Homo sapiens: one gene and its partners. The protein of the gene in region 3 interacts with the protein of the main gene of each other region in a pairwise test. Each region holds a gene or a part of one and is shown on either strand. Other genes may lie near its edges. The genes, in order: EVA1A, TLCD4, MS4A13, SLC16A2 and SLC18A1.

Region 1 (3,518 bases), on a different chromosome or scaffold from region 3:
GATTTCAGCAGGCTTCAGGAAAGACCAAAACAAGAAAACACCAACCAACTCACAGGCACAAAGAAACAACCATAAAGTCCTTGGAGCGGCCAGAGGCTCTGAGAGTGACAGGAGAAGGAGTGGGAGCTCCAGGGACTTTGAAAAGAGACTGGCTGCTGTTAAGGGACCCTTGAGCCGCTGAGCCAGAACACAGCGCCTCTTTCAACAGTCATTTGTGTTCCTAAAAGGTGGCAACTGGATGATACACGTGAATGGTGAGAGCCATCAAACTGAGTTCAGAGGCTGTTCTACAGATCTGAGGACTTCAAGACCCAGGAAAAGAGTGAAGCTACTGGAATATGTCTGAGTTTGTAGTGAGCCATGTGTATTTCAAAACCATTCCCTCCTTCCTGTCTCCACTAATGTTACCAGATTGCAAGTCTTATCATTTTATTTCTGGGAGTTTTGCAACAATCTCCTACCTGGTCTTTCTGATGATACCTCCTTCCTTCTCAATATAGCACCCATTCTTATTAACAGGGTCATTTTTCTATAGTACAAATATGATCACATCACTCCACAACCCAACTCTAATGAATTTCCATTGACCTCTTAACACAATACACATCCACTTTCACAATATCTGACCTCTGCCTTACCTCCTAATGTATCTCCTATCCAAGCTGACAGTCACACACATATACACACAGATAATAAGAATGCTTAGAGCTTCAACAATACTAGATTACTTTTAGTTCCCCCAAGTAGAGCAAGCTCTTTCACCTCTTCATGCTTTTGGTCACACTCTTCCTGTTGCCTAAATGCCCCCCTTCTCTTCATCTGTCTGGCAAATGTTTCCTATAAGAAAGAATTCAGAAGTTTTATGGCAGTCCCAAAATCTCAATGATGTTTTTGCAGAAATAAAAAAATCCATACTGAAATTCATATGGAATCTCAGGGGACCCCAAACAGTCAAAACAATCTTGAAAATTAACAAAGTTAGACATCTCACTCTTCCTGATTTCAAAACTTATTATAAATCTATAGTAATCAAAACAGTGTAGGCCTAGCATATAAAAACAGACATGTAGCTTAATGGAATAGAATAGAACATCCAAAAATAAACCCTTACATATATATATGTTCAAATTATTTTTGCAAGGGTGCCAAGACCATTCAATGGGAAAAGACTGCCTTTTCAGCAAACGGTGTTGGAAAAACTGGATGTCCACGTGCAAAAGGATGAAGTTGGACCCTTACCTTACACTATATAAAAAATTAACTCAAAATGTGTCAAAGACCTAAATGTAACAGCTAAAAATTTTAGAAGACTGTTAGAAGAAAACAGGGGTAAAGATTCATGACATTGGATTTGACAATGATTTCTTGGATATGACACCAAAAGCACAGGCAACAAAAGTAAAAAAAAAGAAAAGGACTCTATGAAAATTAAAAACTTCTGTGCATCACAGGGCACAACAGAGTAAAAAGGCAACCCACAAAATGGGAGAAAATATTTGCAAATAATATATCTGATAAAGGGTTAATATCCAGACTGCTACCTATCCTAATTCCTAATATCAGAACTCCTACAACTCAACAACTAAAAACAAAGAGCTCAATTTAAAAATGGGCAACAGACTTGAAGCAATATTTCTCCAAAGATATACAAGTAGTCAATAGGCACATGAAAAGATGCTCCACATAACCAAGCATTAATGAAATCAAAATCAAAACCACAATGAAATATCATCTCATACCCGTTAGGATGACTACTATCAAAAATCAGAAAATAAGTATTGGAACCCTTGTGCACTGTTGATGGGAAGGTAAAATTGTGCAGCCACTGTGGAAAATAGGATGACTATTCCTTAAAAAATGTTTAAATAGAATTATTGTATGACCCAGCCATTCCACCTCTGGGTATATACTGAAAGGATTTTAAAGCAGAGACTTGAACAGAATTTGTACACCAATGTTCAGAGCTGCATTATTCACAATAGCCAAAAGGTGGAAGTAACCCAAATGTCCATCCACAGATGGATGAATAAATAAAATGTTGTCTACACATACAATGCAATATTACGCACAGCCTTAAAAAGGAAGGCATAAGCATGGATTAAACTTGAGGACATTAGGCTAAGTGAAATAAGCCAGTCAAAAAGGACAGGTATTATATGATTCCACATGTATGAAGCACCAACAGTGGTCATATTCATAGAGACAGAAAGTAGCGGTTGTCAGGAACAGGAGCAGGGAAAAGATAATTATTGAACAGGGTACAGGGTACAAAGTTTCTGTTTTGCAAGATGAAAAGAGTTCTGGGGAAGGATGATGGTGATGGTTGCACAATAATGTAAATATACTTAATGCCACTGAACTATACACTTAAAAGTAATTTAAGATGACGAATTTTGTTATATGTATTTTACCACAATTTAAAAATTGTGTTGGTGAGGTAAAACAGGGAATTTTGAAGGTTACTTTATTTAAAGAATCTTGCAATCAAATTTTGGTTTTAAGTTAATAAGAATGATGGCAGAGTTATCTTTTAGCGGTATTAAATTTGAAGTCAATAAAATTCTAATTCATATCACATTATGATATGGCTTAATTTTAAGTAAGAGATGTTATTGCATTTATTTTTAAAAATTGGATTGTAAATAAGTGTACTCTACCATATTTATAGATTAACAGGAAAAAGATCGTATGAATAGATGAAAAAATGTATTTGTGTAAAATTTAATAAAAAATTCATGATTTAAGCAAAGGAAAGACCTATTGCAGTGAAGCCCCCTATTAATCTTCCAAATGCCTTTCTTTGGCTATCAAAGTGTCCAAATATTCTTCTAATATTGTGCCTATGATATTGCAATTGGAACTGAGTGTCCCCTGGTATGTCACCCCCATACATAGTGTTCAGGGGGTAATAATCTCATTATCCCTTTAGCTACCTGGGGAGAGGTGGGGTGTCAGGAGCAGAGAAGTTTCTGGTAAGAACAGTTCATCTCTGATGATGTTGGCATCAGCCAGTAGAGGTTCTAAAACTTGTTTGGCCCCAGTTGGCTTCTCAGACTCTGAAAGAAAAAAGAAGCAGCACAAAAACCATCATATACCCAGGAGATCACATCATACCTTAGACCTGGTATGTGTGTGAACCCAGCAGAGAAGCTTTGGTGGCTAGTGTCTGGATCCTTGGAAGGATGAATAGCATCCCCAGAGAGGAGAAAGCCCATTGACAGAGTGTAATCTGGAATTTGAACTAGACAGCCAGATAAACCAGTCTCCCAGGGTCATACCAGAAAGGATGCAAGAGGTAAAAGATCAAAGAAACATGCTTCCTCTCTGCTCCTGTCAGCCAAAATCCACAAAACAGCTAGTGTGGGATGTCCCAATCTGGCCCCTCATCAGTGAAGTTTGCAGGCCAGCCTCTCTGGAACAGGAAGGGAGGGAATTCTGTTTCCTTCTAGCAATGCCCAGATGGGCCATGAAATGAAGTCTCACACAGCTCTGTAGGAACTAGAATCCTGGAAATGCTG
Region 2 (3,518 bases), on a different chromosome or scaffold from region 3:
TGAAAAAGTCTGAGCAAGATTTCTCCACTGCTCCAACCTACTTAAATGTAATTATGTATATGTAATTGCACATGGAATTAAACAGAAAAGAAATATTTTCGCTGGCTCATACTCTTTGCTGTTAAATCATAAATGCATCTAGAAATACAGACAAATATCTATAGCTACAACAATCCTGAAGGTTTTAAATGGAAATTCAAAGAATTAGGGTCATTTGTCTGTCTCAAAATCTATGAATACAAACAGACACACCAACACCAACACAGACACACATAAAGGTATTATTTTAGTTAATACAGAAGATAGCATACCACAAAAGCAATCCCTGAATGCATCTGGAGATGGTCTTTAAAAACTAAGAATTGTATGTTTAGATTTATGTTCACCTTTACATCACTATTCCCAATCTTGTCTGCTAGTTAGGCTACAGAAAATCCTGGAACTCACCAGTACAAGGTAGTATGCATACAGGGACGCACAATGATGCATTATAAAAAATTTGTCACCAATCACTTTCCAATACAAAATTATAATGGACAAATCTGTAAGAAAGAAAAGTGAGTAAGGTATTACATAAGAAGAAAGTTGCACTGTTTTTCAAATGTATTGAACTCTTTCTCCTGCCAACTCATCACTGTCCACTCTGAGCCCACAGCACTTTGTTCATCCCTCAGTTAGTCTGATTATCTACTTTACCATAAAATCTCTGCTCCTATATGCCTGTCTCATCCACACTCCTGTGGCTCCTCTAAGACAAGGGCCAGGTTGTGAGCATCTTTAAACCCTCAGAATCTAGCACAAGGCCTGGCATGTAGGTTGGTGCAAAAGTAACTGTGATTTTTGCCATTATTTTTAATCACAAAAACTGCAATTACTTTTGTACCAACCTAATCATATGTAATATAATATTTGTTGAAAGCATAAATGAATAACTTGTTTCCAGAGTTAAAATAAACAAAAAATATTATTGAATAGAAATAATTTTAAATAAGCTTAAGTGACTGATTTTTGTCACTACAATAATTCAAACAGAGATAAGATGGTCATAGGGAAGGTACAAAATGACCAACTCATTTATAAAACAAATCGTACAAAAAATATTTTAAAAATAAAAAAGAATGCAATTAAATACTAATTCAAAATAGTGACGCCACCAAAAACTATAACTATTAAAAAGAAAAACAAAGAAAAAAGCTTACTTCTGCAAATTTTACAAAAACAACACAAAACCATGACTACTGGAACACATTTCAAGAACTCTTGCAAGTGAGGGACCCTAAAAGTTAAATTTCGTTAGTTTCACAGTCATTACACTTAAGAGCCTCATTAGGACAAAGAGGGACCATATCCTTGCTGATAAAAAATGTCCAGGCCTCAGTTGTTTGAGGCATCACTCTGTAACTCTGATCTTCAGTGAGAAACAGAAAACCATTTCATGAAAAGACATTTCATGTTCTACCATCATGGGAGGTATTTTTTTCCTCTGTATGCTTCCTAAATGCTATCTCTCAAATAAACCAAAAGCATAGACTATATATTCTTTGTATAATTCCGTGAGTAGTTTACAAGGAATTAGACAATAAAACAACATCTCACATACCAGAAATGAGGTAGCCTGAGGCAATAGCAATATTCACGTTTGCAAGTGATGGACCACCCCTGAAAAAAAAAAAAGGTTCCTTTTTAAAGTATATAGATTGTAGATGACCGCTACTTCTTTTTTCTATAGAGATTTAAATATAATAAAATTGCTTTCTATAGATTCTCAAATGGTAAGCTGTCATCTTCAAATAAAATTGCAAAACACACAATGACAGTTTAGCCAAACTGTGACGCATCATGTGGTACTGGTGTTAGCAGTAAGGTAACTACTGCTGTTATCTTACATAGTAAGATAGTTACAAAGTGAACTACTAGTGAAAGTAACACTAACTAAAATAGCTGGACTACAAATATTTAATAGAAAGATTTAGCACAAGTTGTGCCTTCTTTACAAATTTTGATCTGTAAATATAACCAGGAAAATTTGACCTGGAGTAAATCATGACATAAAATTCAAATCAAAAATTATGTTAAAGTTCGATAAGGCAAAACTTGAACAATGAATCAAATCTTTGTTATGAAATTTACTTCCCAAAAGAACTGGTTTTATTTTGCTGATGGTCACGTTAGTAAAATGAAAACGAAAATTTTTAAAAAGCTAGAAATTTTGTAGGTAGACTATTTAAAAACCTAGTCATGGAATTAAATTCAATAAATTAATTCTCTTTGAAAAACAGCATCCCAATGAAAATGTATCAATACTGATATTATTCTTCTGGGAATAATTTTATATTTATGAATAGAAAAACGTCCTTGCAGTCAAATGGTGGTGGTCAAAAGAAAAGGCTAAATTGCCCTACATCCCCCGGAGCCCACAACTACCTCATCTCAGTGCAGTGCTTCTTCAAACATGCCTGCTCTCTCAAACTAAGCTGAACTAAGCCTTCTCATATAACACCAGGAAACAGTTTGCAAAATTTCTGCCATTGGAATGACATTTAAATTTTTCTAAAAGGACCATCTTACATGTTATCCTATTACTACTGAACACAGTTATTATTAGTGCATTAGTGCTTCAAATCCTGTGGTACTAAATTCCTATCACATGGCCATCTGTAACTCTCATTTCATCTCTTTGATATCAAATGAGTCAAACATAAATTGGAGACAAAAAAGTCTTAAGTAGATATTATCCAAGTTGACTACCCTATCTCAATAATGATTTATTTTTCTTCAGAACTGTGACTACAATAACTTGGCTTTACTCATTAACACAGTAAAAATGTTTAAATTATCATCATATTCTCCTTGTTTTGGATAACAATTGCTACACTAAGGCAAAATGGCCTTCATTTGTGTTCAAATCTAAAATAAATCATTTAAATGCACTTTGCTAGAATGTCTGAGCACAAGCATTTTAATAAGGCATATACGATCAATATGTTTTCTGTTTTAAAGTAAGTGATGTTCTTATAAATAATTAATATCAAAACATAAATGAAATTGGCAATCTTAGAAAAAGAAACAGCTTACCAAAGTGGATCAGCTTTAGTAGCCTCATCGAATAAGAAAATGTACAGGCCAAAAATACCAACCACCAAAGAATGGCATGTGGATACTACCCTGAAATTAAACAAAATACACACAAAGATTTTAGATTCTTTGCAATAAAATTTAATCCTGACAAGACACAGAACATTCTGAACAAGTTATACCTGGAAGCATTTATATACAGGTGTGAAGTATAACGGAGAGTATAATGCAAAATTGCCATTTCTTGCCATTTAGAAATCCAAAGGCCACAGCTTTACTTTGGAATAAAGAAGGAGGAAGATACCAAGGCCTACAATTTCCTGCTAGAGAACTGGTGAATCACTTATTGGTTAAAAGTTCTAAGACAGATAAATGCATACATGATGATGCAGCTGACAGACTTTTGTGCAGCCAGATGGCAACTGGCAAGGCCACTACCCTTG
Region 3 (4,291 bases):
GTACATCCTGTTTTGTAAGTTACAGGTTCATACGTTCCAAAGGCTCCTTTAATTTGTCCCATATACAAAACCAATAGAAAGTACCACATGAAAATGTGAAAGATGCCAATCATAATCTGGATAGTCTGTGAGAAGAGAATTATGTTAGTACCGAAATAATGTAATTTAAAACACAATTCCAATAAGTGTTAACTATAAGAAGCATTTAACACCTTTACAAATACAAAAGTAAAACAGCAATGCACTTAATGATGTATTTCCTGGATTGGTTATCCCAGAAAAAAGGACCGATCAGGAAGGACTGAGATTTACCAAATAGGAATCAGTCATACTGAAAGCAACAGGCTGTTCAATAATAGTAGCTCTGGCCAATTCTCCTGTAAGTTAACAGTTTGATTCTATCACTGGATAGTCTCCCTACCTATCAAGTAATGGTATGAGAGAATATTGGGGTTACTTCAGAGAAAATGTGGTTACTAATCTACTATAATGCAGGAAGCCATAAATCCAACATTTTCTTGTACATTAGTAATTTATTAAAGATGAATCACTTTTTGAATTTTATAAAGGTTTGATTTATCTTTTCCTTCAAGGAGTATTTGGTATGATTTTTTTCACAAGTATGCTGGAGTGGGGCATAATCCAACACAGCAATACAGAAAATATCCAAAATGGACTCGCTTGAACTCGGTTTTCCCATTGGAAAGGGGAAGGATTTTGAATAGGGGAGAATTATTACTCAACTCTAATTTGTAAGAAGATAATTATAATCCCAGCAAATTTATTTCTGAATTTATATGTGAACTGATATTTCATATATTTAATCACATTTTTGATTACTCTTTAAAAATGACAGAGGACACATAAATTTTATTTTCATATAAACTTAAACAGAAAGCTATTTAATGTTTTAAGAGTTCCAGCTCTTTGCAAAGCAGGCAGTCTATGAAATATATAAGTGCAATTGGCTAACTTTAAAAAATACATTTTGGAGAAGTTTTGTTTTTTTTTTAAGAAAAAGTCTCTTTTTTGGTAACGATCATGCATTTTTATAGATTTAGAATTTAACGTTTCCCCTTGCATCAAATTTGCAAGAATGGTAATTTTCCAGAAATTCTTTGGATTTGCCTGGAGAAATATCTCCCACTAGACTGCAAAATCCCTTAGGGCCTGGAGTTTTTTTTTTTTTATTGTTTTATCACCAGCCTCTAATATGGTGCCCAGAATAGAGAAGGCATCCAGCAAATACCTCTTATATAAGCATACTGGTGTCAAGAATAGTGATTCCATGTGACTTTCCCAACTGTTAAAAAAGTAAGTGAGCTTGAAAAGTACTATCTCTTTTTAAATGATTGACTATTGTTTTATATAAAACCATGAGATAGCTAATTAGCCAATGCTTGTTAAGAACTGCCAGTGTGTGGAGAAGGACAAGATAGGTTTTCTTATTTAAAAATGATTCTTAATCTAGAATCAATATGAGTTCCAGGAGGTCAGACCCGCCTACCCCCTGCCCCCAGGGAAAAAAAATGCGAAGGATTGTGACATGTACATAATTCTGGAAAGAAGATTCAGAGTTTTCATTCTATGCCAAAATGGTCTGTGACCCCAAAGAGGTTAAGAACCTCTGCTGAACAGTCGTATAGGCGACTTAGATAATTGATCTATGCAACATTCAAATTCAGAAGAAAAGTTCACGAGTGGAAATGTTTTCTCCCCTTTGGATGTGAAAAAGCATGATACTCATAATTCCTTGGTGTTCATTAAGAAAGCTAAACTGTAACTTCACATGTTTATAACTTAATAGAAGAGACAAATTTATAATCATCCTACTGCATAAATGTAAGTGCAGTACTCTCTTTTTTCCTTTTAAACCTTACTTGGATTTCTCTATTATCCTGTGTGTGTTGGTTTAGTCTGTATCCCCATATCTCAGCACATGAAGGAACATGAGATCAGTCAAAATTTGTAGAAGACAATCAACATTTGAAAAAAAAAAAACTTTTACCCTTTTGATTTAACCAAGTCTGTCCCCCTTTAGATCCAATATATCCGTTAAAAAAATGAAATAGTTCATGATCTTAAATTTAGTTAGTCAAAGTGAAATCTTACCCCTAAAACGAGAGAATCTGCTGTAGAGATTTGTTAAAGAACACATGCCATACTGCCAGCATTTCCTCTAGATGATTTTCTCTTTAACCTTTGGTGATGTCTTTATTAGCAAACTTCTACAAAACAGTACAAAGCACATATACATTATTTTCTTAGAAGAAAATACGTAAGTTTGATCCTTTCCTTATTGTTCAGTCACCACCTCTCCAAATTCAGAAGCAATAGCCTTCTTTCTTCTTTCTAGGCCTTAATATTAGAGGCATCAACTTTCATCCATCTGTTCTGAATAACAGCCTTCATAACTGAAAAGTCTCTCTCTATGACTAAAACATATCGGCATTTTACAGCTATCATCTCTGAGTAGTAAATAGTGCCTACTGTTTACAGAGTATGATAGGGAGAGGAACACCGTAATCAGCCTCCGTGTCCCTTTATGGCTTCTGACACGAAAGCACTCCAGCAAAGCGACATCACTACCCTGCATTTTACTTGTTCAAGGTTCCAAGGAGTTTCGGGGGGCGCTCGTCCAGGACCCAGTCCGAGTTCTCACGCCAGCGCCCAGGCCTAGATGAAGAGGAAGATCCCGGCTGGCAACGCGCTCAGCGCCAGGTCCCCAGATCTCGCTGAGCTACCATCACAGGGATAGCCAGGAGCCCAGCACCCGGCCGGCTCTCAGGCTCCTCAGGGAGTGACGGTCTGCAATGGCAACGGTGTGCTCCTCTTGCGCCTGCGCACCCACTCAGGAACTGCCGGGGCGGAGGTAGTGCGTGTGCGCAGACTCACTAGGCTCCTGGCAGCCATGTGGTCAGACACCCGGTTAACTACGTTTTGGTGCCTCTAGGAACGGTTTCTGCAAACCTCTATTCTGAGATTGCCCATATTGGTGCATTTCTTATACACCCACCTGCTGCACAGTGACCAGGATCACTGAGGAGAAGTCCGCCCTTCACCTTTTCTGTCTTCAAAGAAAAATTTTGACCACAAGAGCACCTTTGGAAGGTGCACTTTCGAGTGAAGTGGCTAAATCAATGGCTCACTTTTTTTTTCTTTAAACATAAGTAACTGAAGAAGGAAATTAGTGATGAAAGTAATACTTAACAAGACACCAGAATGACTTTTTGATCCACTTGCTGAGGCGGGTTTACCTTTTAGGTGACACGTGGTGTTAGTTTTCTGTTTGAGGTGTAGACAGTAGTTAAAACAGTGTTTATGAAGAGGTGCTTTAGATGAGCAGTACAGACCATCCTCTTAGGCAGCTATCATGACTTACTGAGGCGTTTAAAGTACCTGGAGAACAGCCACTCAATGGCATTTCTCATTTATTCATGGAAAATTTAAATTGACATTGTGGAATAGTTAAAATTCCAGCTTGTAGTGTAAATTTTTAGTCAATGATAGCCAGTGAGTAAAACACGCAGAAAACAAGACAGATTTTTCTTTCATAAGGAAATTTTCTATGCTTTCAACACCTTTATTTGCAAAAAGCTAAATCATGAGTGTGTCTAAAAGCCATCAAGATCTTTTATAGCCTGAAAAATCAACTGTAAATTGAGAATCTTAATTTTTAGTCTCACAGCTAGCTTCCTTACATTGAGACTCCAAAGTCCCCTCAAATCAAAGGAAAAAAAAACAAAAAAAAAAAGCCCAGCCTCTTCTAAAGTCTTTACATTCTGTATTGGTCAGTATGTCATTGAAGGTAATAGTTTTATTCTTAAGTAATATACCACTTCAGTTTCTAGCATTATTATTATTTTGTGAGTTCCTTGTCTATGAGCAGACAGGGCTCCGATAATATTAAGCATTCTCTTTGCTGTAGAAAGAGGAACTGTGTCTTCAACCTCAGGGTTATGGATTTTTTAGAATCCATAGTAGTAAGAGCCAGTTCTGATGAGATGGACCGCTATTGTAACTTGCTGCCAAGACTGATTGATTATTTGTGAGAGAAGTGACATATTTCTTCATTTAAGCTTTGGCCAACAGTCTCTGGAAATTATCATGGATTTGGTCATTTTTTTGGACTGGGGCCAAAATGTGTTTTCAGTATAAACATAGGCAAAAATAGAAGAGTGAGCCAAACTATGAGACAGGCATGGTTCCTTGGTACATCTTATTTCTTCTGCTAATATCACAGATCAGTAAAAGCAACATTGATTTTCTCAGTACCTATAAACTGGATTTG
Region 4 (3,518 bases), on a different chromosome or scaffold from region 3:
ATCACTCTCGCCTAGCAAGCTTCTTAGTCTGGTTCCTTTGCACTAGTACAGCATAATCTTTACAGAAGCCTCTGGTACACCTAATTCCATGAACAGATGGGAAATGACTTATTTCAGATGGAATATTCATAATCTATGGCTTAGGGTGTAGGGTATGGGTGTGTGTGTGTGTGTGTGTGTGTGTGTGTGCGCGCGCGTGCACGCGTGCGCATGCGCTTGCGCACATGTGTATATGTGTAGAACAAAGCCTTTTCTCTAGGGTTCATTCATTCAATCTCAAGTGAGACAACACCTTTCAAGACAGGAAATCCCACTCCGTCATTCACACAATCTGAAAAGAGTAGTTTTCATCTTTTCAAAATGCAACAAAACCATAAAATGAGGCTGGTGGGAAAAGCAGTGCATCTTCCTGGGAAACTGGTCTGCTCAAAAGGTTGATATGGCATCCTTTATATACTTCTACAAATGTTGACAGTCCAGCTGCTTGTTTACTCTTCATGGGCTGGAGGCAATACGGCCAATGACTTCCAAGGAAAAGGAAAGAGAGCTCTGTGCCTGCTACTTCCGTAGGCACACTCTCAGCTAAGCCCTGACGCTGCAGTTGACCAGGGATTGTGGGCATCTAATGGGCCTTCTCCAGGATCACAGTAGCAACCCTCCCCAACCCCACCACAGCAGGATCCAGGCAGTGGCCCTGAGCCAGCTATCAAAACGCCCTGTTTGAAGACCTCTGAAGGGAACCTCATTTAGGAATCCGTTTCCTCTGCTAGCTGGAAGTAACAGCAAACCAAGGTCACACTGACTATGCATTTCTGAGAAATAAGACTGTGCTGTGGGAAATTCAGTTTCAGAAGAGGGGTCCAAACTGAGGCTTGAGGAAATGTTTATAATTTAATACTTTTGAGGAACAGGTTCAAACGCTGGAAAACAGCAGCATACAGACCCACCCTGCTTGCCTGCCAAATCCAGGGAGTTCTCTTGGAGACCCAGCTCTATACCAATCAGGACACTCTGGAAGAAGCAGCTCCACATGCAGGGTTGCCCTTACATACTAGGTAAAAAGGATTGGGTAATTTTTAAACACATCTATACCCATGGGCAGCCCCATAGTCTTTAAATACAAATGACGTGGGGAAATGATGTATATAGGGCTTTTCCTTGCTTTCCCAATCTTCTCCCAATCCATCCTCACTGTCATTCAGGCAGCTTAACGAACTTTTATTTACTTAAATGAGTCAAAATGTATGACATATGAATAGTAAAGAATAAGATATCACATAATTTTAGAAGGATAGAATGGTAGGGCTAGAAAGTTTATTTAGTCAAACCCTCTCATTTTATAGATAGATAAACTGACATACAGAGAGGTGAAGTGCCTGTCCAAAGTCACAGAATAAGTTAGGGGCACAAGTTGTCTAAGTCACAGTTACTGCCTAGCTGGTATCACTGAGACTGCCAGCTTTGGGGAGTCCAGATTTGGCCCTGGGTCTTGCTTTTTTAGACTTAGAATGAGCATTTGAGGCCACTGTACAGTGATCCAGGCATCCAGCCTCAACCAGCTACCCCAACTCAAACAAGCATCCTCCTGGTTGGCCTCCAAATGACCCAATCTCTTATTCTCATCCCTTTCAGTATCAGTCATGGTCATAGTTCAAGATCCCATTTGGTTGGAAAGGGGGCAGGGGAATGACGTGAGAGATGCCTGGCCAAGGGCTGTGTGGCTTGAAGCACCACAGCAGGCGCTAAGCCAACCTGATCTAGCTCTGCTGGACAGTAGTCAAGAGCCTTCAGCTGAAGTCAAGAGATTGGCAGATTTGCTCAAAATACACTTTGCTCCCAAAGTCAGCAATTTAGTGTTACAGTCCAGTGAGACACTGAACCAAGCAATGAAAACCCCTAAGGTGAGAAGGAGAAAGACAGCCTACTCTACCTGGCCCCACCCAACCTTGGGACTCTTGGTTCACCCAAAGGCAGAGTGTATCATTCTTCCCCATGCCTAGAAAATTCTGTTTCCATCAGAGTGGACCATCAGCCTGAACTATCTTGTGCCTAGTAGTGAACCTTCCTGACCATTGTCCCTTTCTCTGGTGATGAGAGCCTCAGCCTTGACCCCCCTTGGGAGCTTACAAGGACCATGCTTATAAACTGCCCAGTAAAACAAAAATGCCTTCCATATTTTTTGGCTCAATGGTGGACCGGCAGTCAAGTTTTACTCTGGAGTACTTTTAAAAAGACTTAAGCATAGAGCCAATGTTAGCAACTCTGGCTTGTTCTGCCTTGTCCTCTGAACTCCCAACCCTAACCCTATTGCAGGTCCAACTCACTTAGGGTCCCAATATTGAGCTGGGGCCTACAATCAATGGCGTCTTGCTTCTCTTTCCCCTCTTTCCTCCAAAAGGCTTCCCTACCACCCCAAGAAGCTATGCTTGGGCCTTTACTTTCCACAGAATTGCCTGGTTGCCTCCTGTCCTGTCTGCTGTTTGGTCTGGGTTGGGGAACTCACAAATTTCCCATGATCTTGGCAAGAAATACAGGCTCATTTCCCTCCTGATCTTTTTCCTTTTTTCACTAAACCAGAGTTTGATCACTTGCCTCCCTCTCAGGGACCTTTTGCCTGCCAATCCACCCAAGCCTAGGACCCAGGGAAAGTTGGCTTTCCTCCAAAACTGGTGAAGAGAGGGGATAAGATATACAGCTGGTGACACCACAAAACTGTATACATCAAAGGGTCCACAAAAACTGCACATTGCATGCTCTAGTAAGGCCTGAATCCCATATCCCTTCTAACTTCTGTGGCTTTTTCCCATGCCCAGAGGCACTCTGATGTGGAGCTGTTCCTCAAACATCAAAACTACCTTTCTTCCCAGCTACTTGGGAGGCTGAGGCAGTAGGACTGCTGGAGGCCAGGAGTTTGAGACCAGCCTGGGCAACATAGCAAGAGTCTGTTTTTAAATAAATAAATAAATAAATAAAAATTAGCCAGGTGTGGTGGCGCATGCCTGTAGTTCTAGCTACTTGAGAAGCTGAGGTGGGACGATTGCTTGTGCCCAGGAGTTTGAAGGTGTCGTGAAATATGACTGCGCCACTGCACTCCAACCTGGTCAACAGAGCAAGATCCCATCTCTAAAAATAAAGTATAAGAAACTACCTTTCTGTGGGGCTTCCTCACAACAATCCCAATCATCTGCAGGACCTTCCACCCATTAAGCCACTCAACACAGCTTTAGGTCTGTGAAGATATTAGGCCTAGTCAAAGAGAAATTGGGTTACGAGGTGCCTCCAAACACCAAATTCATAGACTCTTAGAGATGGAAGTCATGTCAGATATTAATAAAAATGGACGATGCACCAAATTCCTTGAGCGTGGGGGTGTACATTCTGTTTCTCCCAGAATGGCTATTGGACAAATACTGGCTGATAAAAATGACACAAACTTCTATTAGCTTCTTCTATCCCTTTGAGACACCAGTGCTGTGGCACAGACGGCTGGGAAATTTTGAGTAAACAGCAGAAAGTGT
Region 5 (3,518 bases), on a different chromosome or scaffold from region 3:
TACAGACCCCTGGACTGGCCTGCTAGCCCATGCTCCAATGTTGATGACATCGAAAGCACCCCTCTCAAGGAACTTTCAACTGCATGACCCCTACTATGCCCCAGTTCGGCAGGAAGCAGTTAGAGCGGTCATCAGCCAACCTCCCCAACAGCACTTGGGTTTTCCTGTTGAGAGGGGGTACTAACAGACAGGACTAGCTGGATTTCCTAGGCCAATTAAGAATTCCTAAGCCTAGCTGGGGAAGGTGACCACACCCACCTTTAAACAAGGGGCTAGTAACTCAGCTCACACCTGACCAATCACATAGTAAAGAGAGCTCACTAAAATACCAATTAGGCTAAAAGCAGGAGGTAAAGAAATAATCAAATAATCTATCACCTGAGAGCACAGAGGGAGGGACAATGATCGGGATATAAACCCCAGGCATTCCAGCCAGCAGTGGCAATTCCCTTTGGGCCGCCTCCCATTATATGGTAGCTCTGTTTTCACTCTATTAAATCTTGCAGCTGCCAAAAAAAAAAAAAAAAAAAAAAAAAAAAAGAAAGAAAAAGAAAAGAAAAGAAATCTCTGAAATATGGGGATAATCATAATTTCTACCAGACAGGCCAGTTGTGAGGTTTAAACAAAATAGTGCATATCAAACATTTTGCATCGTGCCTGTCGCAGAGTAAGGGCCCTACAAGCACTGGTCTTGATTATTATCATCATAACTCGTGAGTGGCATGTCAGGACTTGAGTCCAGGCCATCTCACTCTAACTCCAAGTGTTTCCACTATGCCACACCCCCAGCGTGGTAGCACAGATGGCTCTGGTATAAGGAACTGTTTGAGATCAGCAGAGTGAGTTTGTCTGGATCTCACCAGCCCTTTTAATCCCTCTCTATACCTAGAAAAAAACAGTGCAGGCTAACAAAAAATACCATGGCAATTACAATTAAATTAAAAGTCAACAATCAACCATTTATTGGCTGACAACTTGTTTGCTTTTAATATTCTCTTCTATGGAGTAGAAGTAAGCACACCTTAGTGTATTTGTGTAGGCTATCCTGGACAGGTGGCAATCTGTTGCAAACTGTACCCATTCGTTTATATTTAATTGCTTAAAAAAATTAAAACTACTCAATTGTTTATCTAGTATGTGGAAGTAAGCACCTCTAGGAAGCCTACAGCCTCCTAGATACACCTCCTTGACATCATTTTAAATGGTGTAAAATTTCCTTAATTAGATTTTTCTCAATCCACGTTGCTCGTTCTTTAGGACCTGATTATAGCTTACATTTTAGCAGTATTTTGTGCAAAATAGGTGCTCCAGAATATGTATTTATAGATACATGACCCCTGCATGAAAAACATCTGTTTTTCACAGTGAATCTCTAAGGGGTGAGGGATTACACATTTTGTGACTATCAAAATGGTTTAAAGTAAAATTGTACAAATAATTTTTTATTTACTGATAGTATCCTGTATTCCACGCACTGGGCTAATCCATTTAGGATTCCAGATGAAAATGACTCTGAAAAATACCTACTTTTTTACAAATTAAAAAACTGAAGTTGGTCTTAGTCTGTTTTATTTTTGCTGCTGTAACATATTACCACAGATTGGGTAATTCTTAAAGAAAAAAGATGTATTTGGATCACAATGCTGGAAGCTGGGAATCGCAAGTGCATGGCACCAGCATCTGCTTGGCCATCTGGTGAGGGACTTCTTGTTGGGTCATAATACAGCCGAAGGGTATCACATGGAGAAAGGGCATTTGAGAGAGAAAAGAAAAAGGGGCCAAACTCCCCCCTTTTGTGACTAACCCACTCCTATGATAATTGCTTTAATCTATTCATAAAGGTGGTGCCCCTAGGACTTTATCACCTACTAAAGGTTCCACTTCTCAACACTGTTGCATTGGGGATTAAGTTTCCAACACACAAATTTTGGAGGACATAGCATTCTACCCCCGGCCTCCAAAATTCATGTCCTTGTCACAATGCAAAATGCATTCAATCCATCCCAATAGTTTCAGAAGTCTTAAGTGGTTCCAGTGTAAACTCAAAAGTCCAAAATCCAGAGTCTTGTCTAAATTAGTTATGGGTGAGATTCAAGGTACGATTAATCCTGAGGCAAATTCCCTCCAGCTGTGAGCGTGTGAAATCAAAACAAATTATACTTGGCCCTTTGTATTTGCAGGTTTCACATCCTTGGATTCAACTAATCGCAGATCAAAAATATATGAGGAAAAAAAATAAAAATAACAGTACAAGATAAAAATAATACAAAAAAGAAAATAATACAGTATAACAACTATTTATATAGCATTTCCATTGCATTAGGTGTTACAAGTCATTGAGAAATGATTATAGTACATGGAAGTACGTGTGTAGATTATATGCAAATACGATGCCATTCTATGTAAGGGACTTGAACATCCTTTGAGTTTGGTATCCGTGAGGAGTCCTAGAACCACTCTCCTATGCACACCAAGGGATAATTTACCTACTTTCAAAAATAATGGTGGAACAAAGATAGAACAGGCATTCTTATTTCAAAAGGAAGCAACAGGGAAGAAGAAAGGGGTAACAGGTCCCACGAAAGTCCAAAGCCCAAAACAGAAAACAATATTATGTCTTAAAGCTGGAGAATAATTGCCTTTGACTCCATGTCCAAAATCCTGGGCACACTGGAGTGGAGTTTGGACCCCTAAGGCATCAGGCAGCCCCATGTCTGTGGTCTTTCCGGGCTGAGTCTACCCAGCAGCAATCATGGGTTGGAGTCTTGTGCTTGCAGGCCACCATGCTGGTGCCCCTACAGTTCCGTGATCTTGGAAGTGGCTGTGCATGGCATCTTTTGAAATTTAGGTGGAAGAAGTCATGCACCCATAGCTCTTGCATTCTGCGCACGTGCAAAATTTGCACCACATAGACACCACCAAGGCTTACCACTTGCACCCTCCAGAGTGGGAGGCCAGGCCACATCTGGGCCCACTTGAGCCATGGCTGGCACAGTTGAGGGGCACTGCACTGAAACGCAGAGAGCAGAGTCCCAAGGTGGTCCTGGGCAGTGAGCCCATGGAGGGTGTCCCAGGCTTATTCCCAAACCATTCTGCCCTCCTACATCTCTGGGCCAGTAATGGGAAGCACAGCTTCGAAGGTCTCTAAAATGCCTTTGGGTCTTTCTCCCACAGTCTTAATAAGTGGTGCCTGGCTCACTTTTATCCACACTAATCACTTTAGGTTGCTTGGCCACAGTCTTGGTGTGCTCTCCTAAAGATGCCTTTTCTTTCTTTCCAAGGCCAGGCAGCAAATTTTCCAAGTCTTTCTGTTTTGTTTCTCTTTTAACCATAAATTTCACCTTTAAATCATTTCTTTGCTTTCACATGTCACTATATATGCAGTTAAAACAGCCACAAAGCAGCCTGAAGCTTTGCTGCTTAGATATTTCTTCTGCCAGATATCCTAGTTTATTGCCTCTAAGTTCTTCATTCCATGAAGTCCTAGGTTATGGATACAAGTCTGCCAAGTTTTTTGT

Evidence for each region.
Region 1: the proteins of MS4A13 (region 3) and EVA1A interact in binary tests that used the Homo sapiens proteins (3 or more experiments, as listed by UniProt).
Region 2: the proteins of MS4A13 (region 3) and TLCD4 interact in binary tests that used the Homo sapiens proteins (3 or more experiments, as listed by UniProt).
Region 4: the proteins of MS4A13 (region 3) and SLC16A2 interact in a two-hybrid assay, tested with the Homo sapiens proteins (one large-scale study listed by BioGRID).
Region 5: the proteins of MS4A13 (region 3) and SLC18A1 interact in binary tests that used the Homo sapiens proteins (3 or more experiments, as listed by UniProt).

What each region holds. Positions count from the first base shown.
Region 1 is NC_000002.12:75,519,432-75,522,949, forward strand, and holds part of EVA1A (protein eva-1 homolog A), read right to left. Parts: intron 3,057-3,518; 5' UTR 2,934-3,056; intron 1-2,933. UniProt on the Homo sapiens protein: Acts as a regulator of programmed cell death, mediating both autophagy and apoptosis.
Region 2 is NC_000001.11:95,148,349-95,151,866, reverse strand, and holds part of TLCD4 (TLC domain-containing protein 4), read right to left. Parts: intron 3,166-3,518; coding exon 3,076-3,165; intron 1,660-3,075; coding exon 1,601-1,659; intron 543-1,600; coding exon 448-542; intron 1-447. Other genes in the region: TLCD4-RWDD3 (TMEM56-RWDD3 protein), read right to left, coding at 448-542, 1,601-1,659, 3,076-3,165.
Region 3 is NC_000011.10:60,513,906-60,518,196, reverse strand, and holds the start of MS4A13 (membrane-spanning 4-domains subfamily A member 13), read right to left. Parts: upstream 2,806-4,291; 5' UTR 2,590-2,805; intron 2,229-2,589; 5' UTR 2,113-2,228; intron 126-2,112; 5' UTR 114-125; coding exon 1-113. UniProt on the Homo sapiens protein: May be involved in signal transduction as a component of a multimeric receptor complex.
Region 4 is NC_000023.11:74,424,483-74,428,000, reverse strand, and holds part of SLC16A2 (monocarboxylate transporter 8), read right to left. Parts: intron 1-3,518. UniProt on the Homo sapiens protein: Specific thyroid hormone transmembrane transporter, that mediates both uptake and efflux of thyroid hormones across the cell membrane independently of pH or a Na(+) gradient.
Region 5 is NC_000008.11:20,159,124-20,162,641, forward strand, and holds part of SLC18A1 (chromaffin granule amine transporter), read right to left. Parts: intron 1-3,518.